Homo sapiens: one gene and its partners. The protein of the gene in region 3 purifies or fractionates together with the protein of the main gene of each other region. This does not show direct contact. Each region holds a gene or a part of one and is shown on either strand. Other genes may lie near its edges. The genes, in order: IFT52, STK25, ARL13B, IFT81, IFT46, SACS and PDXDC1.

Region 1 (4,107 bases), on a different chromosome or scaffold from region 3:
TTGGGCTATTTCCACCTTTTGGCTATTGTGAATAGCGCTGCTAGGAAGATAGGTGTGCAACTATCTCTGAGATCTGGTTTTCCATTCTTTTGGGCATATACCCAGAAGTGGAATTGCTAGATCATATGGCAGTTTTTTTTTTTTTTTTTTTTTGAAAGAGTCTCACTCTGTTGCCAACGCTGGAGTGCAGTGGCCCGATCTCTGCTCGCTGCAACTCCGCCTCCCAGGTTCAAGTGATTCTCCTGCCTCAGCCTCCCAAGTAGTTGGGATTACAGGCGCACACCATCACGCCCGGCTAATTTTTGTATTTTTAGTAGAGATGAGGTTTCACCATGTTGGCCAGGCTAGTCTCGAACTCCTGACCTCAAGTGATCCACCCTTCTCAGCCTCCCAAAGTGCTGGGATTACAGGCGTGGGCCACCACACACAGCCATCATATGGCAATTTTATGCTTAAATTTTTGAGGAACTACCATACTGTTTTTCATGGTGACTGCATCATTTTACATTCCCACCATCAGTGTGGAAGGGTTCCAATAACTTCCCATTCTCACCAATACTTGTCATTTGTATTCTGGGCCTTACATTTATCATTCTTTATCCATTCCATGAACTAGAATAATAAACACTTTTATTTTAAATGAATTCCTATTTTCTTTCTTTTTTTTTTTTTGAGATGGAGTTTTGCTCTTGTTGCCCAGGCTGGAGTGAGATGGCGCGATCTTGGCACACAGCAAGCTCCGCCTCCCAGGTTCAAGCGATTCTCCTGCCTCAGCCTCTCATGTAGCTGGGATTACAGGAATGCGCCACCACGCCTGGCTAATTTTGTATTTTTAGTAGAGACGGGGTTTCTCCATGTTGGTCAGGGTGGTCTTGAACTCCCGACCTCAGGTGATCTGCCTGCCTCGGCCTCCCAAAGTGTTGGGATTACAGGTGTGAGCCACCGCGCCTGGCGGAATTTTCCTATTTTCAAAGCAAAAATATAGCAAAGAAATGTGGCTACTGGCTGGGCTCGGTGGCTCACACCTGTAATCCCAGCACTTTGGGAGGCTGAGGTAGGCAGATCACAAGGTCAGGAGTTTGAGACCAGCCTGGCCAATATGGTGAGACCCCATCTGCACCAAAAATACAAAAATTAGCCGGGCGTGGTGGTGGGCACCTGTAGTCCCAGCTACTCAGGAGGCTGAGGCAGTGAGAATTGCTTGAACCCGGGAGGTGGAGGTTGCAGTGAGCCGAGATTGCGCCACTGCACTCCAGCCTCGGCGACAGAGCGAGACTCTGTCTCAAAAAAAAAAAAAAAAAAAAAAAGAAGTGTGGCTAATATTTAATTGGCCCACACTATGTGTTTGGTACTTTACATGGAGTATCTCAGTTAATCATCACAACTCCATGATGAAAAGAGAGATGAAGTGACTACCTTAAGGCCACACAGTAAGTGGTGAAGGGGGATTCAAATCCGGTATTTCAAAGCTCAGACTCCTAATCATTTCACCATATTCCTTCTTTAGTGGATATTTCTTACCTCAGCTGCAGTAAATTTTTCCCTTGGCCCAGCTGTAATCCACAGTTTCACTCCATTTAACTTCTCAGATGTGATTTCATCTTTTAAGCTGGAAATACAATTTTAAAAGCAAATATGAAGTCCATAATTTAAACCAATTTATGTATTATTTTAGTCTCTTAACTATTTGGAAGCAGAGGCCACAGAGGCTCAGAGATGAAGGGATTTAGAGGTAACTGGTCCAGTCTCTCTCCCAAAGTGAGAATTCCCTCTACAGGCCTGCCCCAGAGTCATCTGGCCTCTGTTCAAATACTTCCAGTAAGTCAAGGTGTTCAAATCAAGCCATGCTAAAGCATAAGGAAGTCTGCAACTACTAATTCAATCAGCCCTACCATTAGCTTGTATGATTACATATCCTCACCTATTAAGAAAAACATGCACATACACAAAGTTATTCTCATTTAATTCTCATGTTTCCTTTCCCTAGTACTGACCTGAGTCAAAATATGAAGAAAGCCTCTAACATCTTAAAAAGCTACATGTGTATAATTAGAATAATCTTTTGGCTTGTGATTTGGAAAACAACTTAATAATATGCTGCTTTAATAATATCCTAATTGCTGATTTCGAAAGACATTTTTTTTTTAATTTTTGTTTTTGACAGAGTCTCCCTCTGTTTCCCAGGCTGGAGTGCAGTGGCATGATCTCGGCTCACTGCAGGCATTCACTTCCTGGGTTCAAGGGATTCTTGTGCCTCAGCCTCCTTAGTAGCTGGGATTATAGGCATGCACCATCATGTCTGGCTAATTTTTGTATTTTCAGTAGAGATGAGGTTTTGCCATGTAGGCCAGGCTGGTCGCCAACTCTTGACCTCTAGTGATCTGCCTGCTTCAGCCTCCCAAAGTGCTGGGATTACAGGCATGAGCCACCGCGTCCTGCCCAAGAGACGTTTTAATAAGAATTTATTTCATTCTGAATAATGTTTTTTTATTTTTTTAGACAGAGTCTCGCTCTGTCACCAAGCTGGAGTGCAGTGGCGCAATCTCGGCTTACTGTAACCTCCGCCTCCTGGATTTAAGCGATTCTCCTGCCTCAGCCTCCCGAGCAGCTGGGACCATAGGCACGCACGATCATGCCCAGCTGATTTTTGTATTTTTAGTAGAGACAGGGTTTCGCCATGTTGGCCAGGATGGTCTTGATCTTTCTTTTTTTTTTTTTTTTTTTTTTGAGACGGAGTCTCACTCTGTTGCCCAGGCTGGAGCGCAGTGGCACAATCTCGGCTCACTGCAACCTCTGCCTCCCGGGTTCAAGCAATTCTCTGCTTCAGCCTCCCAAGGAGCTGGGATTACAGGCGCCCACCACCACACTTCGCTAATTTTTTTTTTAATTTTTAGTAGCGATGGGGTTTCACCATCTTGTCCAGGCTTGTCTCGAACCCATGACCTCATGATCCACCCGCCTTGGCCTCCCAAAGTGCTGGGATTACAGGTGTCAGCCACCGTGCCGGCCAGTCTTGATCTCTTGACCTCGTGATCCGCCCGCCTCAGCCTCCCAAACTGCTGGGATTACAGGTGTGAGCCACCACGCCAGACCTAATTCTGAATAATCTTTAAATTGAGCTTCTCCCACCTAAACAATCTATGTTACCTAAGAAAATAAAGACTTCTCAGCTTTATCAGCAGGACAATATCATTTAGAAGGGAAAACAATATACATGGTCAGTCACCTCTGAATCTTCCAATTACTCCGAAGTTTTTTCTGCATGGATTTGTAGCCATTGTTGGTGGTAAATATCTCCTTTTTGTAGGCATTGAAAAGAATGGTGCTCCGCAGCTCTTTCTCCATGGTTACCTTATGGAAGAAAGATGGGATCAGAAAATCAATAAACAATATTCCAAAGACCCTAAAAGTAATAAATAGTTGCCTTCTACTACTAATTTATCAAGAAAGGGTATACAACTGAAACCTATCTAGGAAACTCCTACAATTCTCAAAGGTTGAGAGTGAAATGCAAAAGCATAGCACAGAAACCTAAGACCAAAACCAACCCAGCCCTCCCCTACCCGCTTTTGCTTTCTGCCTCTTGCCCAGATCCTCCCAACAGCCTACACCTATGGCTCTGCCCTGCCATCACCCTGCTCTTGTGTCCCAAGACCATGTTTCCATCCTGATTCATTACTGCTAACTACTGTTAAGCGCAGGGTATAGTCTTCTAGATTCTATTTTTCTTTTTTTTGAGACGGAGTCTTGCTCTGTCTCCCAGGTTGGAGTGCAATGGTGTGATCTTGGCTCACTGCAACCTCCATCTCCCGGGTTCAAGCGATTCTCCTGCCTCAGCCTCCTGAGTTGCCAGGATTACAGGCACGTGTCACCATGCCCAGCTAATTTTTGTATTTTCAGTAGAGACGGGGTTTCACCATGTTGGTCAGGCTGGTCTCAAACTCCTGACCTCATGATCCACCTGCCTTGGCCTCCCAAAGTGCTGGGATTACAGGTGTGAGCCACTGCACCCAGCTCGAGATTCTTTTTATACATATATTAACTTACAGTTTTATTTTATGAAATAGGATCTTACCATATGCATTATTCTGAAACACCTGTTTCACC
Region 2 (3,815 bases), on a different chromosome or scaffold from region 3:
CCTGAGACCCTGTGCATTGGGGACACCTTCAGACCCACGTGGTGCGGTGGCTTGTCAGGGCTGCCACCGCAGACTGCACACCCAAGAGGCCGTCAGGAGCCTGGGCACAGAGGTGCACGCACGCAGCAGTGGGCTCTTCTCTCTGCAGGTTTTCACACAACAGAAACCACCTGACATCCACCCGCTGAAGCGCACTGCTGTTCAGATAGGGGACGGAAGGTCGTTTGTTTTTGTTCTGAGCTCCATAAGAACTGTGCTGACTTGGAAGGTGCCCTGTGCTATGTCGTGCCTGCAGGGACACGTCGGATCCCGTGGGCCTCACATGCCAGGTCACCAGGTCACCGTCTCCTTCCACCCCTGCAGTGTGCTGTTGTGCACGTCAGGGACGCTGTTCTCTATGCCCACTGCCCTCCTCCCTCTCCTGGCCCAGCAGTATTGCTCACGGGGGCTCCAGCCGCCGGCGTGGCCCTCATGAGCTACGCCTGGGTCTTCTGCAGACTCATGCAGCCCTATGGCCGCTCAGACCAAGGCGCAGAGCAACTATCAGGGCAGCTCTGCCTCCTCCTCCCATGAGGTGGGGAGAGGCAACAGGGCAGCCCCCAGAGGAGTGTCCTGGCCGCTGTCCTCCCGGGGCCCATGATGGCCATAGATTTGCCTTGTGGTGTTGGATCAGGTACTGTGTCTGCTCATAAGTACTTGTGTCATCCAGAATGTTTTGTTTTTTAAGAAAATTGAATTACTTGTTTCCTGAAATATTCTGAGGTTAATATGTTAGTTTTCATAGAACATTGAGAGGCCCCTGCCACTTTCAATAAAGACCTGACTTGGAGACATGCAGGTGTGTGTGGTGGGGCCCGGGCCATGCGGGGCTGCAGCGTCCCTGGTCCCGAGTCCTCATCACAGCACGCAGAGACGGCAGCCCAGCCCCCCTTCGAAACTTCCCTGTGACGGATTCCTGGGCTCTGCTTGGCCCACCGGAAGAACAGAGCAGGCAGAGGAGAATGCAGGTGGGGAGATGCTGTTTGTTTATTTTTAATCAAATGTGTGTGAACAAAGCAGTCGCCCATCTACTTCCCGTTGGAAGGAATGCTGGGCAGTAATAAATTAGACGGCCCCACCCTCCCAGGGCACAGGGGGACTTTGGTTTCTGCTTCTCTAGAGGTACATGGGGAACAAGCGTGGCTTCTGCCAGACTTGTTTAGCTGTGACCTGCAGGGCAGGCCCCTGGGGCTGCCACTTGGTTCACCAGATGGAAGGTCAGCATGGCTGTGCCACGCTTGTCTGAGAGGGTCCTGGCAGTGGGTACGCAGGGTGTATGGCAGGGCCTCTTTTCCAGTGCTTGCTCTAGGCCAGTCCTCGGCAGGGACCCTGCTCTGGGGAGAGAGGCAGGGTGTGCCCAGGCTTTGGTCCGATGCCGAGAGCACTGCTCAGGCCTTGTCTGCGTCTTTGAGCCAGGGGCCTGGGAGCTGTGGCTTGAGCGGCTCCGCGCTCAAGACTCGCACATTTTTCCCAGGGCCCCAGATAGCTGCTGGCATGCACTAGGTCCTGGGTGGGGGGATGAAGCCCCTCCCAGATGTTACATGAGGCCCACCCACACTGCTGGTGCCAGTGGGGATCCAGTGAGACCACAGCCACTTCCCATCTGTTGAGAAGCCTCAGGACAGAGGTCACCTCTGTGTCCTGCTGTTCTTTGTAGTTGTGTCCAAACCTGGGCAGGTTGAGCGTCATTCCTCCTTCCCCCTGACCATCCCCTCCAGCCCTGAGGAGGGTTGGGGGCCATCCTGCACGATGCTTGGGGCCCTCCCGGCTGAGCTGCTGGCCCCCTGGATCACCTCCATCCACCTGGAGGAGAGGGCGGCCATCAGACCAGTGAGCCATCTTGTGCTCAGACACTGTCCCAAGAACAACCCAGGATATGGGACAAGCAGGACAAAAGAAGGGTTAAAAACCTGGGGCCGGGTGCGGTGGCTCATGCCTATAATCCCAGCACTTTGGGAGGCTGAGGCAGATGGATCACTTGAGGTCAGGAGTTCGAGACCAGCCTGGCCAACATGGTGAAACCCTGTCTCTACTAAAAATACAAAAATTAGCCAGGCGGCGTGGCGTGCATGCCTGTAATCTCAGTTACTCAGGAGGCTGAGGCAGAAGAATCGCTTGAACCCTGGAGGTGCAGGTTATAGTGAGCCAAGATTGTATCACTGCACTCCAGCCTGAGTGACAGAGGGAGACGCCATCTCCAAAAAAAAAAAAAACAAAGCATTGCTGTTTTTTGGAAATGCTGGAAGCATTGCTCAGCCCTTCCTTTCCAGGGCCCAGAAAACTTGCCTCCACCACCATGAGTAGAAATGGGAGCTGAGCGGACATCGAAATGGGCAGCTGACCAGGGCTGCCTCCTGCAAAATTACCTTTCAAATGTGTACTTGCTCTCAGCCCGGAAGAAGTAGACGTGGGATTTGAACTGGAGCTTGAAAACATAGTCTTTGTGTATGCCATCGGCCTCCCTGGGGATGCTCACGCTGTAGCCCAGCAGCGGGAGGCTGGCCAGTGGGTAGTCATCCTGCAAGACAGCATAGGGACACGGGTTCCAGGGGCTGGGTTGCCACAGGGAATGCCCATTCCTCTGCTACCTGCACAACGGTGGCACGTACAAATGCCCACGGGCCAAGGGAGCCAGTTTCCCTGTTCACACAGCACAGGGTGTGTGGGCAAAGCATGGGAGGGCAGAACCAAAATACAAAAGGGACACAGGTGAGCAGGGTTAAGTGTCTGTCTGCTAGCATCACCTGCATTGGGCTCCAGTGAAACTCCAGTACCTGATGAGTTTTGTAGAAGAACAAACAGAAGTTGGTAAAGACGACCCAGAGCTTCTGCCAGCCATGACTGTTTTTGAACTTTCTTAGCAGATATCCTGAAAGCTGGTTCTGTCAATAAAGGAAAAATGCAGGTGCATTAACCAGCACCCAGGACCCCTTGTGGGAGTGGGTTTGCTCCCCAAGACTAAGCCTCTGCATGCTTTCTCCAGCTGAGGCCTTGGTTTTACCTCTGGACTGCTATGAACAGCAGCTTTATCAGTACTTAAGTCCAACAGAAGCATGTTAAAAACCTAGAGTGACATTCCAGGCACCAAGTAAAGTGAGTTCCCTTTCCCTGTGCACAATAAAGTCAGTGTTCAGTAACCAACCATCCACAAACCCATCCAACAGCCAGAAGAGAGAAGATACCTTAAGAGACAGTACATTGAGCCAAGTCTGGAAGGTTCTTTAAAATGATGGGTGGGGGAGAGGCAAGTAAAGGCACACACAAGATGCCCCACTGCAGCCCTGTCCCTAAGCATGTGGCATCTGTTCTGCCAGGATTAGGCATGGCTTTGGCGCTGGAGTGGCTGGGCTCATGGGGCTCACATGAGCCTCCCGCCTTCAGGGTGGTATTCAGGGGTTGCACTCTAAGATGGCGGAGCGGGCCTAGCTAGGACCCTGCTTAGATCTCAGGTGTCCTGGACTGGCCATAAGCTGGTGGGCCCAGGTCAGGGACCTGCTGCACCCTGACCTACCCAGGGTCATCAGGGGAGAGGCTCGGGCTCAGCCCCCTCACGGGGGTGCTGGGGTAGCTCCTGAGCCCCTGCCCAGCCGATTGTGGCTGGGGTGAATTATGGGGAGACAGCAAAAAAGACAAGAGCTCTGGGTGGAGTAAGACAGCAGGCTTGGGGAAGGGTGTGGGGGCACCAGGCTGAGGAACCTGGTGACCCACAATGGCAGACCGGGCCCATGCAGTGAGATAGAGCTGACAACCTTCTATGGCAGGGTGCCTGGGCAGAG
Region 3 (4,835 bases):
CTAGGAAAGGATCTAAGTGAGGAGAGGTGAACAAATACAATGGGTACTGGGGTACAGAATGTATTAAACAAATCTGCAAAGTAATCTCAAATATAGTATATTAATAACCATCATCATCTCTTTTACAAATTCACTCCTCACATTTCATCTTCATAAAATATAAACATGAAGAGGAATCTTAATAAGAAATTCTACAGAAAACAAATATATACATAATAATCAAACAGGCAATTTCTGTTGAAAAAATAGAGAACACCATAAAAGCACAAAATTTTGTTTTTAAAATTAGCTTGCTCACCTCTCATTTATTCCAGTAAAATAAATGGAACTACTTGCTAATGTTATTTACTTCAGGATGATTATTACTAAGAAAAATCGAACTACATACAATATTTGGCAAATATTTATTCAGCCACTATTATAAATCAGGCATTGAACAAGGGGACTTAGAAGACAGGGGTAATCCAACTTGTGTTCAAATTCTTTGACAGTTATCCAAATTGAGATGTTTACCTATGTCCTTTATATTAGGCTATGATCCAGAGCAGTAAGATCCAACAGAAATGTTAACATAAGCAACATATACATTGAAATTCTCTAGTAATCTCATTTTTTAAAAAGTAAAAAAAAGTTAATTCTAATATATTATTTAACCTAGCATATGCAAAAGTTATCATTTCAACATGTAATCATACTTTTAAAAGACTGATAAGATGCTGACTTTTTTGCATAATAAATCTTTTTTCAAAGCCCACTATGTATTAAACATACACTTACAGCATCTTAATTCAGACTAGCCACATTTCAAGTGCTCAACAGCCACGTGTAGCTCGTTGTTACCCTACTGGACAGGACAAATCTAGATGGTGCTTATTAAAGAAGAAAATACACTCTGGGTTATGCAGCTAAATTTTAATAATGCTTTATTAAGAAAATTCAATTATCTGTTCTACTTGGAAATCAATACATTCTCCTTTCTCTGAACTCTTCTCTTTAAACAAATCATTCCAGAGAGTATATATACAAAAGCTGCTAAGAAAAGGAAAGACTAAGAATGATGAATTAAATTGAACACTCCTTCTTCGAATTACACGTTTTCACTGTTTCTCGTTAAAAGAACGTAAGTTATATACATGCCTTCACAGAAACCAAATACATTTCTTAAAAGCAGACACGGAGGAAAATGAGGGGTCAACTATTATGAATGACCCTCAAGTCTTAGTAGATACTGTGAAATTAGACCAGAATATAATTAAAGCAAATAAATCAGAATCTATGCACCTAAAACAACTCTTTGACTTTTTTCTTTTTTTTTTTTTTTTTTTTTTTTGAGACAGGGTTGCACTGTGTCACTCAGGGAGTGCAGCGATATCGGCTCACTGCAACCTCCGCCTCCCAGGCTCAAGTGATCCTACTGATTCAGCCTCCGAAGTAGCTTGGACTACAGGCGTGCGTCACCGTGCCCGTTTATTTTATTGTAGAAACGGGGTTTCGCCATATTGACCAGGCTGGTCTCGAACTCCAGGGCTCCAAAGATCGGCCAGCTTCGGCCTCCCAAAGTGCTGGGATTACAGGCGTGAGCCACCACACCCAGCCCATCTTTGACTTACAGAGTTGATCTTACTACTTATATTTAAAACATTCAAATTCAGTTAGGAGCTAATAATGGGGAAGAATCTCTAGTTTCATTTAAAGTTACTTTTTTTCCAATCTAGACATGTATTTTCTGTTATAATGTGTAAGTGTAGCTTTTCAGATTCATTCTTTAAAGGATAGTTCATTCTCATGGCAAATATACTTAAAATGTTAACAATTTAAAAAAAAAAACAACTTTGCTTTATCTTACCCTTGGCCCAATTCCAGACTAGAACTATGTGAAGTCAACATTATTTGTGTAACAAACACAAGATCTCTTTATAGGTTAGGCCTCAGTTTCAAAAGCATCAATTTCACTGATTATTTCCTAAGACAGTGCCTGGCACAAGGTATTGTCTTAATAAATATTTTTTGAATGAATGAATATCAAGTAACAGGTACTAATTATTAATACTTCCAGCATTTCAAAATGAAATGTTAAAAAGTGGACCCTTTCAATTAAAAGGTTTTACTAGAGACCGTATAAAAATTGGAAGCTACATTACAGTTAAGAAAACACTATCACTTGTTCTCATTGAATACAATATTTCTAAAGCAGAGTATTATCACTCTCATTTAATATTTAAGAAAGGTGGGGCCAAAATGGTTGAGTCATGTAATTATTAAGTAGTGGAGCCAGATTTCAAGCCCACGTCCTCAAATACAACTGTGTGGAGGTGTGACTTGGAATGGAATGTGCGGATATTATGAAAACTATATTCCATGTCCCCCTCTTTTTAAAAGAATTTCCATTACAAAAGCTTCAGAGGAAAAACACACAATGGATAGTTTTCAATTCCACACACACACACACACACACACACACACACACACTTTTTAACAAATTCAAACCTATTTAAAATATAACAACGGTAAGCATTGTCAATCGCAACAGAAAGTCGACCAGACAACAAGGCTACATCCTCCAATCTCTCCCTCCCGGGACACCCTGGGAATGAAAGCATCCCTTGCGGCCTGGGATAGACTCGTCCAGGCGCGGGGAAAAGGCGGCGCCTCGCCCCTGGGGCGCAGCCATCTCCAACCCCTAGGACGGCCAGGACAGCTGGCTCCAGCCTACCTGACAGGCTCCCGCCACCGCTTGAACCAGCCGCAGCAACTGGCCATCAGACTGAACATCCCGGGTCGCTCCTCCCACCACTTCCCATCCGAGCCCGGAGCGGACACCGGCACCCCGCTCTTCCCCGGGGGCCTCCGGCACTCCGAGACGCCCCTAAAGTGGATAAGTCGGGAGGAAAAGCCGGGAGGGAAGTGAAGGCGGCCGGCCCGAGCACTAAGCCTTGCTAACCGCGTGGGTCCGCGACGACTGCCCTCTTAGCCAAGGAACAACCTGACCAAAGACGCAGATACACCGTAGCCGAGTTAGCGGGACCCGGCTAAAGAAAAGCCCCGCGTCGACGTGCTGACGTTACTTCGAGGCGCGGAAGGCGTTCCCCAGGCAACGCCCGTACTGCGCTCGCCCAATCATCGGTTGAGGTCCTGAGGTAGAGGCCTCTGAGTGGCTGAAGAGTCCTGGCTACCCGCCCCTGCGCGAGACTAGGAAAAGAGAAAGGGGAGTACTCTATAAGAAGGAGGCGGAGCTCGAGGTAGCTCGTTCTCGTAACTAGGCAACCGGAGCGTCCGGAGATAAGCTGGAGGATCCGGGACAAATCTCCAGCAAGGCCTATCTTTATACCTACATAAAATGTGTTGCCAATCCACGGTGCTGTTCCTTTCCTTTCTCCAGTGTCCCCAACTGAGATTCAGAGATCTCAGGTCTTGTGCATGGGTTTTTCTTTTTCTTTCTTTCTTTTTTCTTGTTTTTTGTTTGTTTGTTTTTTGCTCAGGGATGGGGACCCTCTAGAATTCTGGCCGACTTAGGCAGCATGACTACAGGAACAATACACTGGGGCAATTCTTGTAAGTTAAAGACAAGGGGGAAATTCGCTTGCTAAATTTTCTCAGTAGTTCAGATGAGAGTGAAGCCTTAATCTCTAAAACGTTTATTACTGTTACATATGTGAAACGGAATTGTATGATATTTGTTGTAGGGGGGATTGTGATTACAAAAGAAAAATGCATTTCTTGTAGAAAATGTGAAAAATACTAAAAAGAAACAAGATGAAGAAAATGAGATCTCACAGGAGCTCTCAAAGATAACCATTTGGGGCCGGGCGCGGTGGCTCACGCCTGTAATCCCAGCACTTTGTGAGGCCGAGGCGGGCGGATCACGAGGCCAGGTGATCTAGACCATCCTGGCTAACATGGTGAAACCCCGTCTCTAGTAAAAATACAAAAAAAAAAAAACAAAAAAAAACAAAAACGGGTGTGGTGGCACGCGCCTGTAGTCCCAGCTACGCTGGAGACTGAGGCAGGGGAATTGCTTGAACCCGGGAGGCGGAGGTTGCAGTGAGCCGAGATCGCGCCACTGCACTCCAGTCTGGGCAACAGAGCAAGACTCCGTCTCAAAAATAAATAAATAACCATTTTGATGTATGTTTGTTTCAGGATTTTTAGGTACATAAATTGCTGGCTATTTGGTATCTGCAAGATGAAGATTGTTATCTCTTGACTGTTTTGTAATAGTTTATTTTTTAAAGAGGTATGTAATATTTGCATTTCTTTTATATACTTTGGAGAAAAAGAAATGACAAGGACATTCCTGTAGGGAAAAAATTATGCACAATATGTAGGGATCTGTGTGTCCATTCATTTTCTACTTAAATAAATATTTTCAAATCCTGATGAAAGGATAGAAGGCACTGAGAATCCCAGTGTATTCGCGGGGAATATAATGATTTGAGACTAAGATACATATAGGTTTTAAATTAGTCTCTGTCCTTTACTAAATCATGTAACTTTTTTTGGTTTTGTTTTGTTTTGTTTGAGACAGAGTCTCCCTCTATCACCCAGGTTGGAGTACAGTGGCATGATCTCGATTCACTGCAACCTCCGCTTCCTGGGGTCAAGTGATCCTCCTTCCTCAGTCTCCCAAGTAGCTGGGACTAGAGACGTGCACCATCACGCCCAGCTGATTTTTGTATTTTTTGTAGAGACAGGGTTTCATCATGTTGCCCAGGCTGGTCTCAAACTCCTGGCCTCAAATGATCCGCCTGCCTCGGCCTCCCAAAAGTGCTGGGATTATAGACATGAGCCATGGCACCCAGCCTCATGTAATTTTAATTCAAATTTATATACATCTC
Region 4 (4,107 bases), on a different chromosome or scaffold from region 3:
CCACTTCCCAGAAAGATGTCAACGAAGTAGGAACTCCTTAACCTCCTGCTCCCTGCTCTTGTAGAATTTCATAGATTACTACAGAAAGATGAATTAACCCTCTATCAGCTATTTACATTGGGATAGTTCTCCAGTACAAATGAGAGCTTTCCACTGCTCTTTCAGTTTGCGTGGTCTTTCTTCTGACAAGCAAAAATGCTTTGTAAAATGCCTAGGATGGATCTGGTGGTGTAATCTGGGCTGTTAGGACAGTTTATCCTCTGTGTTAAGCTAATGTAAGAACAGAGCCAGAGATACCTACGTCATTAGCACTGTTATTCTACAAACCAAAATATGAAAAACACTCGGTTTTAAGGATCCAGCATTCTATTCTTTTTCTTTATAGCCCTGGCTTTAAAACAATGATTCATAATTTTTCCAACCATCATTTTCACAACGTCCATGCTAAGTCCTTTATTTATTTATTTATTTATTTATTTTTCTTGAGACAGAGTCTCAGTCTGTCGCCCAGGCTGCAGTACAATGGCGCGATCTCGGCTCACTGCAACCTCTGCCTTCTAGGTTCAAGCAATTCTCCTGCCGCAGCATCCTGAGTAGCTGAGATTATAGGCACATGACATCATGCCCAGCTAATTTTTTTGTACTTTTAGTAGAAACAGGGTTTCACCATGTTGGCCAGGTTGGTCTCGAACTCCTGACCTCAAGTGATCCACCCGCCTCAGCCTCCTAAAGTGCTGGGATTATAAGTGTGAGCTACCACGCCCAGCCATGCTAAGTCCTTTATACAAGCACAAACCAGACAGCCTCCCTCCACAGTTGTTTTCATTATCTTCACTCTCTGATGTGAAAAACTGGTTAGGAATTGTTTGTTGTTGCTGTTAAGATGGAGTCTCGCTCTGTCGCCCAGGCTGGGCTGCAGTGGCGCGGTCTCGGCTCACTGCAACCTCTGCCTCCCAGATTCAAGTGATTCTCCTGCCTCAGCCCCCTGAGTAGCTGGGATTACAGGCACCCACCACCACGCTCTGCTAATTTTTGTATGTTTAGTAGAGATGGGGTTTCGCCATGTTGGCTAGGCTGGTCTCGAACTCCTGACCTCTCGCCACCTCGGGCTCCCAAAGTGCTGGGATTATAGGCATGAGCCACTGCACCCGGCCATCTGGTTAGGAATTTTTAAAAACATCTGGTGAAAACCCAGGGATGTCTTTATCAGGGCTCTCCTTCTCCAGCTAGGAAATGATGTTCCAAAATGCTGAGACATCACTTGATGATAACTAATTCTCACAAATTGATTTTTTAGGAAGATCGTGATTTAAATTAATATTTTCTAATCATCTATACCATATAATAATTTCCACTTACTTTCAGGCTTTGCATCTGCTGCAGCTTGGCGCATGCTTTTCAGCTGGTTTTGTACTCTTTGCAATCTTTGCACTGCATGAAATAGCTTTAAAATACAATTAAATAGATTACTTGCTTAGTCTACTGAAGCTTACCTCTCACTTAGGCAAGCAATGAAAAATACAAGTTCCATATAATTCTTATGATATAAAAGGAACAAATAATAAGAACTCGGAAAATTCCCATATTAAACCCAAAATGTAACTGGTTCTCTCAATACCTTTTCACATACATTTTTTAAGGAAGTTTTCACAAATTTTTCTTTAGTTATTTACTGAATTTGCGGTTTAAGGAAAAATACTTATCAAAGAAACACACACACCAGATTTTTCTTGTTATACATGGTTTTCTTAAGGCCAAGTAATGTTAACATTGATATAGTGATGTTTCAGAATCACAAACCAACGCCAAGTAACCATTCAGGGCTTAGGCGATGCAGCTTACTGCTGCAGTGAAACTACTTCGATGCCAAGTCAAGTGCCAGCAAAATCAAACATTTAAACTGCTGATTTAGTAGTAAATGAAGCTTATGTGAAATATATTTTAATGTATAAGTCTACTCAGATTTTAAAATAGATTTTTAATAAGTAAAAGTAATAATTTCTTAGCAAATTATTTTTCTTTAAGGCAAAGTTTAAAAACATGGAGTGTAGGTGATTTTGAGCCTTTTCATGACTTATTTGCCATTGTAGTAAACTGCAGAGGGTACTGTGATCACTGGAATAAAAAGAATGGTCTCATAGCCCTGGAATCTAAAAGCATCCTGTAGAGATTCTAGAAGTTTTATTAGCAGTTAATCTTACTGTTAACATTACAATGACTCTTCTGTAATGTTGGAACAACACGAGGTAAGCATAGGCCAAAAGACAGTGTATAGATACAATTCAGAGTATAAAACCCAAAAAGTGGTATTGTTGTTGCCACAAAATATTTATCTTTTTTTTTTTTTTTTTTTCAGACAAAGTCTCACTCTGTTGCCTAAGCTGGAGTGTGGTGGCGTGATCTCAGCTCACCTCAACCTCCACTTCCTGGGTTCAAGTGATTCTCCTGCCTCAGCCTCTGGAGTAGCTGGGACTACAGGCATGTGCCACCATGCCCAGCTAATTTTTATATTTTTAGTACAGACAGGGTTTCACTGTGCTGGCCAGGCTGGTCTTGAACTCCTGACCTCCTGATTCGCCCGCCTCAGCCTCCCAAAGTGCTGGGATTACAGGTGTTAGCCACTGCACCCGGCCTGAAATATTTATCTTAATTAAAAGAGTATTCCATTATGTTAGCAAAAGGAACGTGAACGTCTACAATTTTAAAACTCTTTTCTTTACATTTGGATTATGAGAAGGAACTATTTCCTTCATACTGAGAATATAAACTTTTATGTGGATACCTGATTCTTTTGTTCCTGTTTCTGTTGTGCAAGATATTCTTCTCTCTCTTTTTCAACTCGAAGTTGCCTTGCTATTTTAAGCATCCATTGATGATTCTGAGCTGTCTCAACCTACAGTAAGGGAATAAGTAGTACATGTTACTGTCAGGTTTGAAGAAAAAAATTAGCATGTCATGTGACTCAGACATCCACTTATCATTTCCTTTTGGTAAACAGTACTCCCTAGAGATGACAGTAAAGCTCTAGGCTCCAGGTCCTTGAAAGTGCTGGGCTACTGTCTAGAGAGATTCCCTTTTCGTCAATGTTATTTGAGTCCATCCTCAGATGTACACTCATGCTTGGCTGAATCTTTATTTGCATTCCTAAATCTTTGCAAGTCCTTGGGACTTGGGGCCAAAGTCTTACAGTACTAATTCTGCCTTACCCTTTTCTTCAAATGTTCAACTCTCTTAATGAGCTGATCCTTTTCTTCTTCCATTGCACTGATATCCTAAAAAGTGGCAAAGAAGACCTTATAAGAAAAAGTATTCTCAGTCTGTAGGAAACAGATAAGGTTTTATTTTGATTATGCATCTAACATTTTCATCATTTATAACCACAGCATTAACAACCAAGATCCTCTTTTGGATGAAGGTCATTTCTATTTTTCCCCCAGGGCTTCTTATGCAGGGTAATTTTTTTGGCAGCTTGGTGTTCATCCAGAAATGCAACAAAAACCAGTTATAATGCAGCAAGGTAAAGCTGCCAACCAGCACATTTGTGTTCTGATTCCAAATATGGGCACATGATTTTTGAAAAATTTTCTATAATGGAAAGTGTGCAGGTCTAAATACATGAACAACAGCTGCTGACATCCCATCTGTTCTGTTAAATACCAAGCCATATATTTTGCCAATTTTCCATCAAAATTATTTTTAAGGCTATGGTATTTTCATGACATAAGTTTGTACCTGGTTTTTCCAATGAACCAATTCCGTCTCTGAAAATAAAGACTTCAAAAATAAACTTCCTTCCTGTTAACCAGCTTCATAGTATTTTGTTATAAAAACAAACAAATAAAAAAACTCCTTCCTAAATCTAAAAAACTAATAGCTTAAATATCGCAGTAATAGTAAAGGTAAAATATACACGGTAGTCAGTATTGACAGAATTTGGAAAAATGGGCACTCTTACTCATTACCGATAGCACTGTACTGAAGAACAATATCAAAAGTCTTAAAATATAGCCTGGCCAACATGTTGAAATTTTGTCTCTACTAAAAATACAAAACTAGCCAGGCGTGGTGGCAAGTGCCTGTAATCCCAGCTACTTGGGAGGCTGAGGC
Region 5 (4,107 bases), on a different chromosome or scaffold from region 3:
AGGATGGTCTTGATCTCTTGACCTCACGATCCGCCCGCCTCGGCCTCCCAAAGTGCTGGGATTACATTACAGGTGTGCGCCACCATGCCCAGCTAATTTTTCTATTTTTAGTAGAGATGGGGTTTCACCATGTTGGCTGGATGGTCTTGATCTCTTGACCTCTTGCCTCGCCCTCCCAAAGTGCTGGGATTACAGGTGTGAGCCACTGCACCTGGCCTTTTTTTTTTCTTTTAATAGAGATGGGTCTATGTTGCCCAGACTGGTCTCAAACTCCTGGGCTCAAGCAATCCTCCCATTTTGGCCTCCCACTCCATTATGACTTTTTTTTTTTTTTTTGGAGATGGAGTCTTGCTCTATTACCCAGGCTGGAGTGCAGTGATGCAATCTTGGCTCACTGCAACATCTGCACCCCTCCTGGGTTCAAGAGATTCTCCTGCCTCAGCCTCCTGAGTAGCTGGGATTACAGGTGCCTGCCACAACACCCAGCTATTTTTTTAATTTTTTTAGTAGAAACGGGGTTTTGCCATGTTGGCCAGGCTGGTCTTGAACTCCTGGCCTCAGGTGATGCGCCCACCTCAGCCTCCCAAAGTGCTGGGATTATAGGTATGAGCCACCATGTCCAGCTCCTTTTTTCTTTTCTTTTTTTTTTGTAGAGAAGAGTCTCCTATTGTTGCCCAGACCGGTCCTGAACTCCTGGCCTCAAGTGATCGTCCCACCTCAGCCTCCCAAAGTGCTGGGATTTACAGGTATGAGCTACCGTGCCTGGCCCAGTTTCCTTTCCTTATTGATATATAAGAGCTCTTTGCTTGGACAGTAATTTTTTCTATTACATACATATATAAAATATTTTTTCTCAGACTGCTACTGTCTTTTAACTTTGTTTATGGTATCTATTGGTATGTAGAACCTTTCATTTCTATGAGTTTAAACTGTCACATTTTCTCCATTATGACTTTTTTTTTTTTTTTTTGAGACAGAGTCTCGCTCTGTCACCAGGCTGGAGTGCAGTGGCACGATCTCGGCTCACTGCAATCTCTGCCTCCCAGGTTCAAGCGATTCTCCTGGCTCAGCCTCCCGAGTAGCTGAGACTACAGGTGTGCACCACCACGCCTGGCTAATTATTGTATTTCTAGTAGAGATGGGGTTTCACCATGTTGGCTAGGATGGTCTCGATCTCTTGACCTCATGATCAGCCCGCCTCGGCCTCCCAAAGTGCTGGGATTACAGGCGTGAGCCACTGTGGCTGGCCTTTTCTTTTGGTTTTAACAGAGATGGGTCTATGTTGCCCAGGCTGGTCTCAAACTCCTGGGCTCAAGCAATCCTCCCATCTCAGCCTCCCACTCCATTATGACTTTTTTTTTTTTTTTTGAGATGGAGTCTCGCTCTATTACCCAGGCTGGAGTGTAGTTGCTCAATCTTTGCTCACTGCAACCTCCGTGCCCTCCTCTGCCCCTGGGTTCAAGTGATTCTCCTGCCTCAGCCTCCCAAGTAGCTGGGATTACAGGCACACACCACCACACCCAGCTAATTTTTGTATTTTTTTAGTAGAGATGGGGTTTCGCCATGTTGGCCAGGCTGGTCTCAAACTCTTGACCTCAGGTGATCTACCTGCCTCGGCCTCCCAAAGTGCTGGGATTACAGGTGTGAGCCACCGCGCCTGGCCTAAGCCACTGCACCCGGCCTCAATATGACTTTTAAGTTTCTTATTACACTGAGAAACACCTAACTATCCTAATAGAATTAAATTTCCCTAAGTTATAAGACACTTGAATTTTTTAAAAAGAGATAATTAAATTTCTCCTATATTTTATTTCATTTATTTTTTCAGTCATGCTCCTTCTGTATCTCCTATATTTTATTATATTACTTACATGGCTTTATTTTTACAATAACTCTTTTTTTCCCTTCTTTTATTTATTTGTTTATTTTTGGAAACAGAGTTTCCTTATGCTGCCCACGCTGGTCCTGAGCTCAAGCAATCTTCACGCCTCAGCCTCCCAAAATTATAGGACTACAGGCATGAGCCACTGTGCCCGGCCCACATTAACTCTTTAATTCATCTGAAATTCACATATGTATACAGTTGAGGCAGAAACCTACTTTAATTTTTTTCAAATAATTGTCTCATTATACCCTAATTCTATCACCAATCATTTAAAAAACTATCTTTCTTGGCCAGGCGCGGTGGCTCACGCCTATAATCCCAGCACTTTGGGAGGCAGAGGCGGGTGGATCACGAGGTCAGGAGTTCAAGACCAGCCTGGCCAAGATGGTGAAACCCCGTCTCTACTAAAAATACAAAAATTAGCCAGGCACAGTGGCAGATGCCTGTAATCCCAGCTACTTGGGAGGCTGAGGCAGGAGAATTGCTTGAACCTGCGGGGGGTACGGAGGTTGCAGTGAGCCAAGATCATGCCACTGCACTCCAGCTTGGGCAACAGAGTGAGACTGCCTCAAAAAAAAAAAAAAAAAACTATCTTTCTTATATATCAAATTACCACATATACATGGGTTTCCTGTGTTACCATTAAAAAGTTAATGAAATCCTAGCACTTTGGGAGGCCAAGGCAGACGGATCACTTGAGGTCAGGAATTCGAGACCAGCCTGGCCAACATGGTGAAACCCTTTCTCTACTAAAATACAAAAATTAGCATGGTGGCATGGTGGCAGGCACCTGTAATCCCAGCTACTCGAGAGGCTGAGGCAGGAGAATCACTTGAATTGGGAGGTGGAGGTTGCCGTGAGCTGAGATCATGCCACTGCACTCCAGCCTGGGCGACAGAGAGAGACTCCATCTCAACAAAAAAAATTAATGATCGCTGGGTGGAGTGGCTCATGCCTGTAATCCCAGCACTTTGGGAGGCTGAGGAAGGAGGACTGCTTGAGCCCAGGAGTTTGAGAACAGCCTGGGCAACAAAGCAAGACCTCGTCTCTACCAAAAATTAAAAAAATGGCTGAGTGTGGTGGTGCATGCCTGTGGTCCCAGCTACTGGTAAGGCTGAGGTGGGAGGGTCACTTGAGCCCGGGAGGTAGAGGCTGCAGTGAGCCATGATCATGCCACTGCACTGCAGCCTGGGAAGAGCAAGACCCTGTCTCAAAAAAAAAAAAAAAAAAAAGTTACCAATAATAATAATGGAGGAAGAGAAAAAACACTGGGCCCTGGAGCGAATACTGTACTTTCTTACCCTACCTCCTGCTACCTTCCACTCACCTTGCCCAAAAGCTCTTCAAACTCCGGGGACCATTCCTGCATCAGCGTGTCAATGTCGGGCATGGGCCTAAAAGTATAAAGGTAAATATGAACAAGAAACGTGAACTGATAACATCAGCAACCTCTGGATCAGCATATTCTAGGATGAAGGAGAGGTCTTCAATCTGGCACATCAGGAAGGCTTCAGGAGAACCTAGACTGGGCATACCAAAGTTACCCAGGGCCTGGGGTTTGGAGGAGGTAGCTAAGTAATACTAGAGAAATTACAATCTTTATGTCTACAATCTCAGCCAGTAGTTGCCAGGATCCACAGGACCTCAGGTTGATCAAATATGTTCCCAGCCTCTGGGCCTCTTCTCAGGAGCAACAGTTCACAGGTAGTGAAGGTTACTATGTGTTACTGTTGCAAAGAATGTGGTATTTCTTACCTGGTGTAGTGCACAGTCGCAGGGGGCTTAGAACGGTGTAATTCAGAGATGCTCTCAATCCACGTGTCAATGGCTTTGGGATTCTTTTCTGCATCTTCTAGGCTTTTTACTTTCATATGTTGCTAGGAAAGTAAGGAGAAAGCCTAGCTGATGGCACTGAAGTAGCTCTCTTGTTTTTACAGTGTCTCATTATATCTGCTGCTGTTTCATATTCGAGCTTGCTGATGACAGCTGCTGCCACGTGAAACAGTAGCCAAATGAAGGGGATAGAAAACCCTGATAAAATCTGCTGCAGCCAGGCCAGGCATGGCGGTCACACTTGTAATCCTAGCACTTTGGCAGTCTGAGGTGGGAGGATCAGTTGAGGCTAGGAGTTCAAGACCAGCCTGGGCAACATAGTGAGACCTTGTCTGTACTAAAAATTTAAAAATTAGCCAGGCATGGTGGTGTGTGCCTGTGGTCTCAGC
Region 6 (4,107 bases), on a different chromosome or scaffold from region 3:
GGAGGTCATGAATCAGTGGGCAGAGAGTATCATGAACACATTTCATGTCACTTCATGTGTTAAAAAATATTAGATCAGCAAAAGTAGTAGCATCTAATATTTGCAAAAACCGTCTGCAGTTGACTAAATGCTGTTAGAACACAGCTCAGTTTGGTGTTGCGGTGATACAGTTCATGGATAAGGCAAGCTGGCCCTGTTTAGGGATGAGGAAAGTTGGGCACAGCGAGATTATGCGATTCTCAAGCCATGGTGAGGAGAAGACCGAAGAATGTTCTCTTCCATCAGGTGGTGCTACTCCCCAAATGGTAGGGTAGAAGCAGCGTTCCTCTTCTGAAAAGAAAGAGAAGGAGGAAGAAGGAAATGAGGTTTGAGGGGGTGAAAGGAAAATATCTTAGGCCCCCAAAATCACTAAGGAAAACTCAACCCAGGAACTGCTTAGGGCAAACCTGCCTCCCATTCTATTCAAAGTCACTCCTCTGCTCTCTGAGATAGATGCATATCTGATTTGCCTCCGTTGGAAAGGCTAATCAGAAACTCAGAAGAATGCAACCACTTGTGTATCACCTGTCTGACTCACTTCCAGTCTTCTTGCTTTTGCTTCAAGTTGTCCCCCCTTTCCAGACCAAACCAATGTACTTCTTTTTTTTTTTTTTTTTTGAGACGGAGTCTCACTCTGTCACCCAGGCTGGAGTGCAATGGCATCATCTCAGCTCACTGCAACCTCCACCTCCCGAGTTCAAGCAATTCTTCCATCTCAGCCTCCCGAGTAGCTGGGATTACAGGCACCCACCATCATGCCGGGCTAAATTTTGTATTTTCGTAGAGACGGGGTTTCACCATGTTGGCCAGGCTGGTCTTGAACTCCTGACCTCAGGTGATCTGCCCGCCTTGGCTTCCCAAAGTGCTGGGATTACAGGCGTGGGCCACTGCACCTGGCCTGTACTTCTTACATATACTAACTGATGTCTCATGTCTCCCTGAATGTATAAAACCAAGCTGTGCCCTGACCACCTTGGGCAAATGTCATCAGGACTTCCTGAGGCTGTGTAAGGGGTGCGTCCTCAACCTTGACAAAATAAACTTTATAAATTAACTGAGACCTGTCTCAGATTTTCTGGGCTCACTGAAGTCCTATACTTGTGTCAGGCACTCAGTCGTGGGGAATAAGTAAGAGCTGGGAGCCACCGGGATTTAAACGAAGTATGGGCTGTTGCTGGACTCTTCTGGACACCAGTTTCCTTCTCTGTATAATGAAATTCACAATTCCCTACCAAATCACTAGGCTGTTATGAGACTGAAATAAGATCATCCCTATGAAATCACTTTAACAAATCTAAAATACCATGCCCCTGCAAGGTAATCTTATTGTATTGCATTTTAATTTTACTACCAGTATCATTCCAATTGTATAAAAATTTTGTATATACTAATATTCTCTGCCTTGTCACACAGACCCCCGGCGGCCATGCTCTAGCTCATAGGCACGAGCCCACTCCCGCAGGGAGTCAGGCGGGGTGGAGCTTCGGGGCCCCAAGTCCAGCACCCACCTGAGATCTTCACACCCTGAGCAGAGCAGTCGGGGCAACTTAACTGGGCACCAAGTGGGCAAAAATGGCGCCTTCCCCACCACATGTGCAGAAGGGTGAATTCCTGGATGTTGAGGGGTGGGGGCACAGAAACTCCCTGCCCGCTCTCCCCAGGAAGAGGGCAGGGCCCATGGGGACAAGGATTCCCACCTCTTCCCCACCACCATGGACATAAGGCCTTAGTGGACACCAAGGCCCCAGCACGACATCAGGCCCCAAACGACACTGGACTCTAGGTGGACACTGGACATCAGACACCAGGTTGATGCCAGGCCCTAGTCAAGTGGACTCCAGTCCCTGCATAAACATCAGGTCCCAGTTTGGCACATAGGCCCCAGGTGGACACCAGGCCCCTGGTGGATGCCCAGGTTAATACCAGGCCCCAGGTGGACACAAGGTCCCAGGTACATTCAGGTCCCGGGTGGAAACCAGGCCCCAGATGGACATCGGGCATCTGTATGTCAGGTCCCAGGTGGACACATAGGCCCCAAGTGGATGTCTAGTCCCCAGGTAAATACCAGGGCCAAGGTGAACAGGAGGCCCCAGGTGGACACCCTGACCCCAGAGGACCATCCAGCTCGAGGTGGACGTCAGGCCCCAAGTGGACACCAGTGTCCAGATGGACATCAGGCCCCAGGTAGACACTCGACTTGAGGTGTACACCAAGCACCAGGCTCACGCCCAGGCCCCCGATGGATACAATGAAACAACAGGTTCCATTCAGTGATATAATAAAGCACATCCCAAAGCTCCTTCACCCATATCTTCATGATAATTAACTGAGCTGGATAGTCACATGTTCATATATAGGCCTAATAACCTCAGAAATGTAATTGTTTAGATTCTACAAAACCTGTGTTTGGACTTGTTTAATGGAAACTCAGGTTCCATTCAGTGATTTAAAACAGCACATCACAAAGCTTCTTTGTACATAGCTTGGTTTTCGTTATTAGTACTGGACGTTCATATGTTGATATATAGGCCTGATAGCCCCTGAAATGTCATATCTGAGATTCTACAAAACATGTGTTTGGAACTTGCTTCATGGAAACACAGGTTCCATTCATTTATATAAAACAGCACATCAGAAAGTTTCTCCTCACATAGCTTGTTTTTCATTATTAGGGCTGAAAATCTATGTAGGTACAATAGTCTCTGAAATCTCATTTCCTTTTTTTTTTTTTTGAGACAGAGTTTCCCACTTGTTGCCCAGGCTGGAGGGCAGTGGCGTGATCTCGGCTCGCTGCAACCTCCGCCTCCCGGGTTCAAGTGATTCTCCTGCCTCAGCCTCCCAAGTAGTTGGGATTACAGGCATGCGCCACCATGCCCGGCTAATTTTGTATTTTTAGTAGAGCCGGGGTTTTTCCATGTTAGCCAGGCTGCTCTCGAACTCCCGACCTCAGGTGATCTGCCCGCTTTGGCCTCCCAAAGTTCTGGGATTATAGGCGTGAGCCACCATGCCCGGCCTGAAATCTCCTTTCTTAGATTCTCCAAAACATATGTTTGGAAATTGTATAATGGAGATTCCAGTTGCATTCAGTGATATAATAAAGCACATCAGAAAGCTTCTTCACACATAGCTTGTTTCTAGTTATTAGTAGTGGATATGTGTATATTCATATATAAACCCAATAACCTCTGAAATGTCATTTTTGTAGATTCTACAAAACATGTTTGAAACTTGTTTCATAAAAACACAGGTTCCATTCAGTGATATAAAACAGCACATCACAAAGCTGTTTTTAGTTATTAGGGATGGATACTCGTATATTCATATATAGGATAATATCCTCTGAAATGTCATTGCTTAGGTTCTAAAAAATGAGTGCTTGTAACTTGTTTAACAAAAACACTGGTTCTTCTCATTCATATGAAATAGTACATCCCAAAGCTCAAAGCTTCTTCACACATAGCTTGCTTTTAGTTATTAAGGCTCCGTATTTTTATATATAGGCCTAATAGTTTATATATAGGCCTAATAGCTTCTGAAATCTCATTAATTAGATTCCACAAAATGTGTGTTTGGAACTTGTTTAATGAAAACTCACGTCCCATTCAGCGATATAATAAAGCACATCACAAATGTTCTTTGCACATAGCTGTTTCTAGTTATTAGGGCTGGATATTAGTAGGTTCATATAGAGGCCTAATAATCTCTGCAATGTCATTACTTAGATTCTACAATACGTCCTTTTGGAACTTGTTTAACAGAAATGCTTGTTCCATTCAGTGATATAAAACAGTGCATCCTAAAGCTTCTTCGCACATAGATTGTTTTTTGTTATTAGTGATAGATAGTTGTATATTCATACATAGGCCTAATAGCCTATGGAATGTCATTCCTTAGGTTCTAAAAAATGTGTGTTTGGAACTAGTTTAATAAAAACACAGGTTCCATTCAGTGATGTGAGACAGCACATCACAAAGCTTCTTCACAGATTGTTTCTAGTTATTAGGGATGGATATTCGTATATTCATATATAGACCTAATAGCCTCTGAAATGTCATTCCCTGGGTTCTA
Region 7 (4,107 bases), on a different chromosome or scaffold from region 3:
GGAGAAAACCAATTCAGCACGGAGCCCACTACAGGGATCTGCCGCAACACCCCCTGCAAGACAGGACCAGAGTTCAGGGCCACCTGGCCTCACGGCGGCTCCCCCAGCCTGCTGCCCATCGGGGGCCTCACCTCTTCCAGAAGCCGTTCTTCACTTGCCTTCTGCAGCTCCACTTGAGCTTCCTGAATGCCTTTCCGAACCACTTCTGTCATGTTTTCCAGAAGCTGTGGCAAGACCAAGAAAGACATTACTTGTTTAAGGTTCTCACCTGGGGCCCAGAAGAGCTAGTAACACAGCACTGAGGGAATTTTTCAAAAGCAGGTCAATGAAATCCTGCATTGAAAAGCCGGCGTAAAACGAACAGAAACTCAAAGACAAGCAGATAACATGCTCATAGAGGCCTAGGCAGACACACCTTGGTGACCAGCCTCATTTGCTACGTATTCTTGAAAACAGAGAAGTCATAAAGTCAGGCTGGAAAGAAACCTTAAGGAGTCCACCCAGAAAGGAATGAAGCTGGCTTCTCGGCCGCATGTCCAATGGCTCGTGTCTCTCTCCTTTCAGAGCAGTCTTACCTTGGTCCCTCTTCTCTCCTTTTGAGTGATTTTTAGGGAAGTAATCATCTGTTTGGAGGATACCTTATCAGCCTTGTATCCTGGTCCTCCATGCTAAGGGACCCACAGCAGTAGGTCTATTCCTGGTGGGAAGTGCTATAGGGAAGGGGTGTAGGGGGAACCACACATACAACAGCCCATTTCATTCACCCTCAGGACACAGCTCCAGAGCAGAAGTCCTCCCTGACCTTGGTGGCAGGGGTGAATGTGTCTGCCTGAGTGTCCAGCTACCCGCCCTCTTCTCTAAGGCAGGGTTACTACACAGCGTGGCTATGTGGATCTTTCCCCCTGAGCTTGTGAGATCACTGGGGCATGGGCTGTGTCAAACCTACTTGGCATCTCTGACACCTGGCACAAGGCCCAGCTTACAGGAAACATTGACAGACTTTGAGAGACAACGAACAGACATCCCAAGGGCAGCTGCTTTCCTCGTGGCCCCTGCTGTTTGGTGGGACAAAACTCAGAAGAGGAATGAACACTGATGGGTGCTACGGACCCTCGAGTTCTCCTCTATCTCCCGGGCTGTGGCCGCAATGGTCTCCACGAGCTCAGCAGCATCGACGTTGTCGCTCGCCATGCCGACATAAAGGCAGCTCTTCATGCTCTTATACTCAGGGCCTGCAAAGGTAACGAGACAAACTTGAGTTTCTCAGTCCTCTGTCATGGGTGAGACGTGGACCTACTCTCCTGTTCAGGGTCCTGACCACACACAAAGGGGTCTCCTCCATGGAGATTCTAAGGGCGGAGAGAAAGGCCTGGCAAGGCTGCAGAAGGGGAGGGAGGTCTCAGAACCGCATCTTCGCCTGGAACCCAGCCCGAGAGGCGCTAGCCCGCTAAGGGATGAGCCGTCGTCTTCAAAGCCGGTTACCAAGTGTCCTTCCAAACCCCACAGCTGACTTACAAAGTAAGCAGTTACCTATTTTAAAGGTTAGGTCAGATTCCAGTTCATTTAACTTCTTCAGGAGTCCAGCATGGATGTTTTCCCCTTCGGGATCTGATTTCAAACTGCTCTTATCATCATTAGCATGTTCATACCTAAAACAACATCAAACCACAGCATTTCAGCTTAAAAGATCAAATGTCTCTTCTGATACAGGATTAGAAACCTCTAAATATTAGCAAGACAATGCAGTGGAACCAGTGGGCAAAAGAGCTACTGCGAGTGTCTCCAGACCACAAACTTTCTGGAAGTGTGCCAGGAGTAAAGAGAAAGTCACAGGAAAGCCTTTTTTTTTTTTTTTTAAAGCAGGGTCTCACTTGGTGGCCCAGGCTGGGGTGCAGTGGCATGATCTTGGCTCACTGCAACCTCCACCTCCTGGGCTCAGTTGATCCTTCCATCTAAGCTTCCCGAGTAGCTGGGACTACAGGTGTGCACCACCACCTCTGGCTAATTTTTGTATTTTTTCTAGAGATGGGGTTTCGCCATGTTGTCCAGGCTGGACTCAAGCTCCTGGCCTCAAGTCATCTATGCTCCTGTTGGCCTCCCAAAGTGCTGGGATTACAGGCATGAGCCACCGTGCCCAGCTGAAAGCCTAAGTCTTTAGTTCCATACAAGGTCTGGAAGTCTCATGGGCAATACAAAAAGAGGTTTGCCTCACCTCTGAAGGCGAGAAAGCAGCCATAGGACTGCACCCAGTTCTCTCCCCGAGAGCTGGGTTCTTTTTCTTACTGATTTGCAATTCTCTATATGCCCTGGATAGTAACCATTCTCAGTGAGTGATATATACCTGTTGGCATCTTCTCCTAGGTAGCTGAGAGTCGGCACCTACAGACAGAACATTCAGCAACTCCCCTCCCTGAGCGCCACGCTGGCCAAATTGCCTGCTTGCACTGTGCTTTTGTAAATGCCCAGAAAACCGAGTTGCATTTTCGTTAAGCATATTGTGACTACACGTTCATCTTGGATTTCTAAGGTGGTTCAGAAAATGACCCACTCATGTTCTTTATACAGAAAAGTCTCCAACATCAAGCGGCAGGCCAAGACTTTACCTGACAACCCCTATTCCAGACCAGTTAGGGTCATCAACATATAGGAGACCTGCTGTTGCTTCCACTTCCTGCTTGAACTCTTCACGCAACTGGAGCGTACAGCACAGCACTGGCAGTTTGCTTTCTATGCAGGCTACGAGCTGATCCACATCCTCTCCCCGAGTTCCTAAAACTGAAGATGTTCACAATGTCAGAGAAATGCTCACGAGATGGCCAATGACAAGAGGGCAGGGCTCCCTCTTCCACTACTGGGAAGGTCAAAAGCTCGAGGTACTCCAGTTACCGGGAGCCATGGAGATTTAAACAAAAAAAGGCCCTCAACACAGATATGGAAGAATTAGGGTTAGAAACAGACACAGCTGGCTGTAGCAGGTGTGGAGTGTTTCTCTCACAGATGTGGCCCACAATGACATACTCCAGTGTTAGAAATCACTCTTCCCACAGCAAGCCTACTTCAGGCAGGCTGGAGACATCACACCATAGGTTCAGCACAAAAAGGCAACCACAGATTCTGTACATTCCTATGACTGAGAGAAAGGGAAGTACTGTGGTGGGCTGCTGTCCCCACACAGGAAGGACAGGGAGATGGTGACAGCGCCGGGCCTCAGGGCTCACTGGCTTACTTTTGCAGTTTTAGAGACTAAGTATCTAGAGCTGTGGCCAGGCAATCCTTATAGTGGCCAGTGCTTTGGGAATCTGAGCCAGGAGGATCACTTAAGGCCAGGAGTTCAAGAGCAGCCTGGGTGACAGAGTGAGACCACGTCTCTATGGAAAAAAAAAAAAAAAAAAAAAAATAGATGTGGTGGTGCTCGCCTGTAGTCCCAGCTCCTTGGGAGGCTGAGGCAGGGGATTGCTTGAGCCCAGGAGGTCGAGGTTGCAATGAGCTATGGTGAAGACACTGCATTCCAGCCAGGGTGACAAATGAGACCCTGTTTCTAAAAAAAAAATAAAAACCAAAACACAGATCCCCAGGCTCCATTCTAGAATCTCTGGGGGTGGGCGGCCACTGGTTGTGTGTAAAGCTCCCGGATGACTCTAATGTGCAGTGGGGAGTGAGAACCCTTGTAGTGGAAAATCGAGAGTCACAAGACATCAAAATATAGGAATTCCAGCCTGGCCAACGTGGCAAAACCCCATTTCTACAAAAAATGCAAAAATTAGTCCAGTGTGGTGGCTCATGCCTGTGGTCCCAACTCCTCGGGGGCTGAGGTGGGAAGATCACTTGAGCCCAGGAGGTCAAGGCTGCAGTGAGCCATGATCGCACCACTGCACTCCAGCCTGGGTGACAGAGCAAGACCCTGTCTCAACAACAACAAAAAAGGAATTCATGTGATGACTTTTTTTTTTTTTTTTTTTTTTTTTGAGATGGAGTCTCCTCTGTCCCCCAGGCTGGAGTGCAGTGGTGTAATCTCAGCTCACTGCAACCTCGGCCTCCCAGGTTCAAGTGATTCTCCTGCCTCAGCCTCCCAAGTAGCTGGGACTGCAGGTGTGTACCACCATGCCT

The links.
Region 1: the proteins of ARL13B (region 3) and IFT52 purify together in Homo sapiens (affinity purification with mass spectrometry; 4 studies listed by BioGRID and IntAct, with this or other methods). This does not show direct contact.
Region 2: the proteins of ARL13B (region 3) and STK25 purify together in Homo sapiens (affinity purification with mass spectrometry; 3 studies listed by BioGRID and IntAct, with this or other methods). This does not show direct contact.
Region 4: the proteins of ARL13B (region 3) and IFT81 purify together in Homo sapiens (affinity purification with mass spectrometry; 4 studies listed by BioGRID and IntAct, with this or other methods). This does not show direct contact.
Region 5: the proteins of ARL13B (region 3) and IFT46 purify together in Homo sapiens (affinity purification with mass spectrometry; 4 studies listed by BioGRID and IntAct, with this or other methods). This does not show direct contact.
Region 6: the proteins of ARL13B (region 3) and SACS purify together in Homo sapiens (co-immunoprecipitation; one large-scale study listed by IntAct). This does not show direct contact.
Region 7: the proteins of ARL13B (region 3) and PDXDC1 purify together in Homo sapiens (affinity purification with mass spectrometry; 2 studies listed by BioGRID and IntAct, with this or other methods). This does not show direct contact.

The regions. Positions count from the first base shown.
Region 1 is NC_000020.11:43,593,937-43,598,043, reverse strand, and holds part of IFT52 (intraflagellar transport protein 52 homolog), read right to left. Parts: intron 3,352-4,107; 5' UTR 3,346-3,351; coding exon 3,227-3,345; intron 1,610-3,226; coding exon 1,522-1,609; intron 1-1,521. UniProt on the Homo sapiens protein: Involved in ciliogenesis as part of a complex involved in intraflagellar transport (IFT), the bi-directional movement of particles required for the assembly, maintenance and functioning of primary cilia. Required for the anterograde transport of IFT88.
Region 2 is NC_000002.12:241,492,035-241,495,849, reverse strand, and holds the end of STK25 (serine/threonine-protein kinase 25), read left to right. Parts: intron 1-148; coding exon 149-188; 3' UTR 189-1,724; coding exon of another isoform or gene 1,725-1,842; 3' UTR 1,843-2,401; coding exon of another isoform or gene 2,402-2,557; 3' UTR 2,558-2,813; coding exon of another isoform or gene 2,814-2,921; 3' UTR 2,922-3,180; downstream 3,181-3,815. Other genes in the region: FARP2 (FERM, ARHGEF and pleckstrin domain-containing protein 2), read right to left, coding at 1,725-1,842, 2,406-2,557, 2,814-2,921. UniProt on the Homo sapiens protein: Oxidant stress-activated serine/threonine kinase that may play a role in the response to environmental stress.
Region 3 is NC_000003.12:93,978,361-93,983,195, reverse strand, and holds the start of ARL13B (ADP-ribosylation factor-like protein 13B), read right to left. Parts: upstream 3,042-4,835; 5' UTR 2,773-3,041; coding exon 2,714-2,772; intron 1-2,713. UniProt on the Homo sapiens protein: Cilium-specific protein required to control the microtubule-based, ciliary axoneme structure. May act by maintaining the association between IFT subcomplexes A and B. Binds GTP but is not able to hydrolyze fit; the GTPase activity remains unclear.
Region 4 is NC_000012.12:110,134,113-110,138,219, reverse strand, and holds part of IFT81 (intraflagellar transport protein 81 homolog), read right to left. Parts: intron 3,273-4,107; coding exon 3,207-3,272; intron 2,894-3,206; coding exon 2,783-2,893; intron 1,445-2,782; coding exon 1,360-1,444; intron 1-1,359. UniProt on the Homo sapiens protein: Component of the intraflagellar transport (IFT) complex B: together with IFT74, forms a tubulin-binding module that specifically mediates transport of tubulin within the cilium. Binds tubulin via its CH (calponin-homology)-like region.
Region 5 is NC_000011.10:118,548,574-118,552,680, forward strand, and holds part of IFT46 (intraflagellar transport protein 46 homolog), read right to left. Parts: intron 3,763-4,107; coding exon 3,641-3,762; intron 3,280-3,640; coding exon 3,213-3,279; intron 1-3,212. UniProt on the Homo sapiens protein: Forms part of a complex involved in intraflagellar transport (IFT), the bi-directional movement of particles required for the assembly, maintenance and functioning of primary cilia. May play a role in chondrocyte maturation and skeletogenesis.
Region 6 is NC_000013.11:23,423,190-23,427,296, reverse strand, and holds part of SACS (sacsin), read left to right. Parts: exon of another isoform or gene 1-330; intron 331-4,107. UniProt on the Homo sapiens protein: Co-chaperone which acts as a regulator of the Hsp70 chaperone machinery and may be involved in the processing of other ataxia-linked proteins.
Region 7 is NC_000016.10:15,030,403-15,034,509, reverse strand, and holds part of PDXDC1 (pyridoxal-dependent decarboxylase domain-containing protein 1), read right to left. Parts: intron 2,776-4,107; coding exon 2,604-2,775; intron 1,650-2,603; coding exon 1,531-1,649; intron 1,233-1,530; coding exon 1,111-1,232; intron 225-1,110; coding exon 132-224; intron 54-131; coding exon 1-53.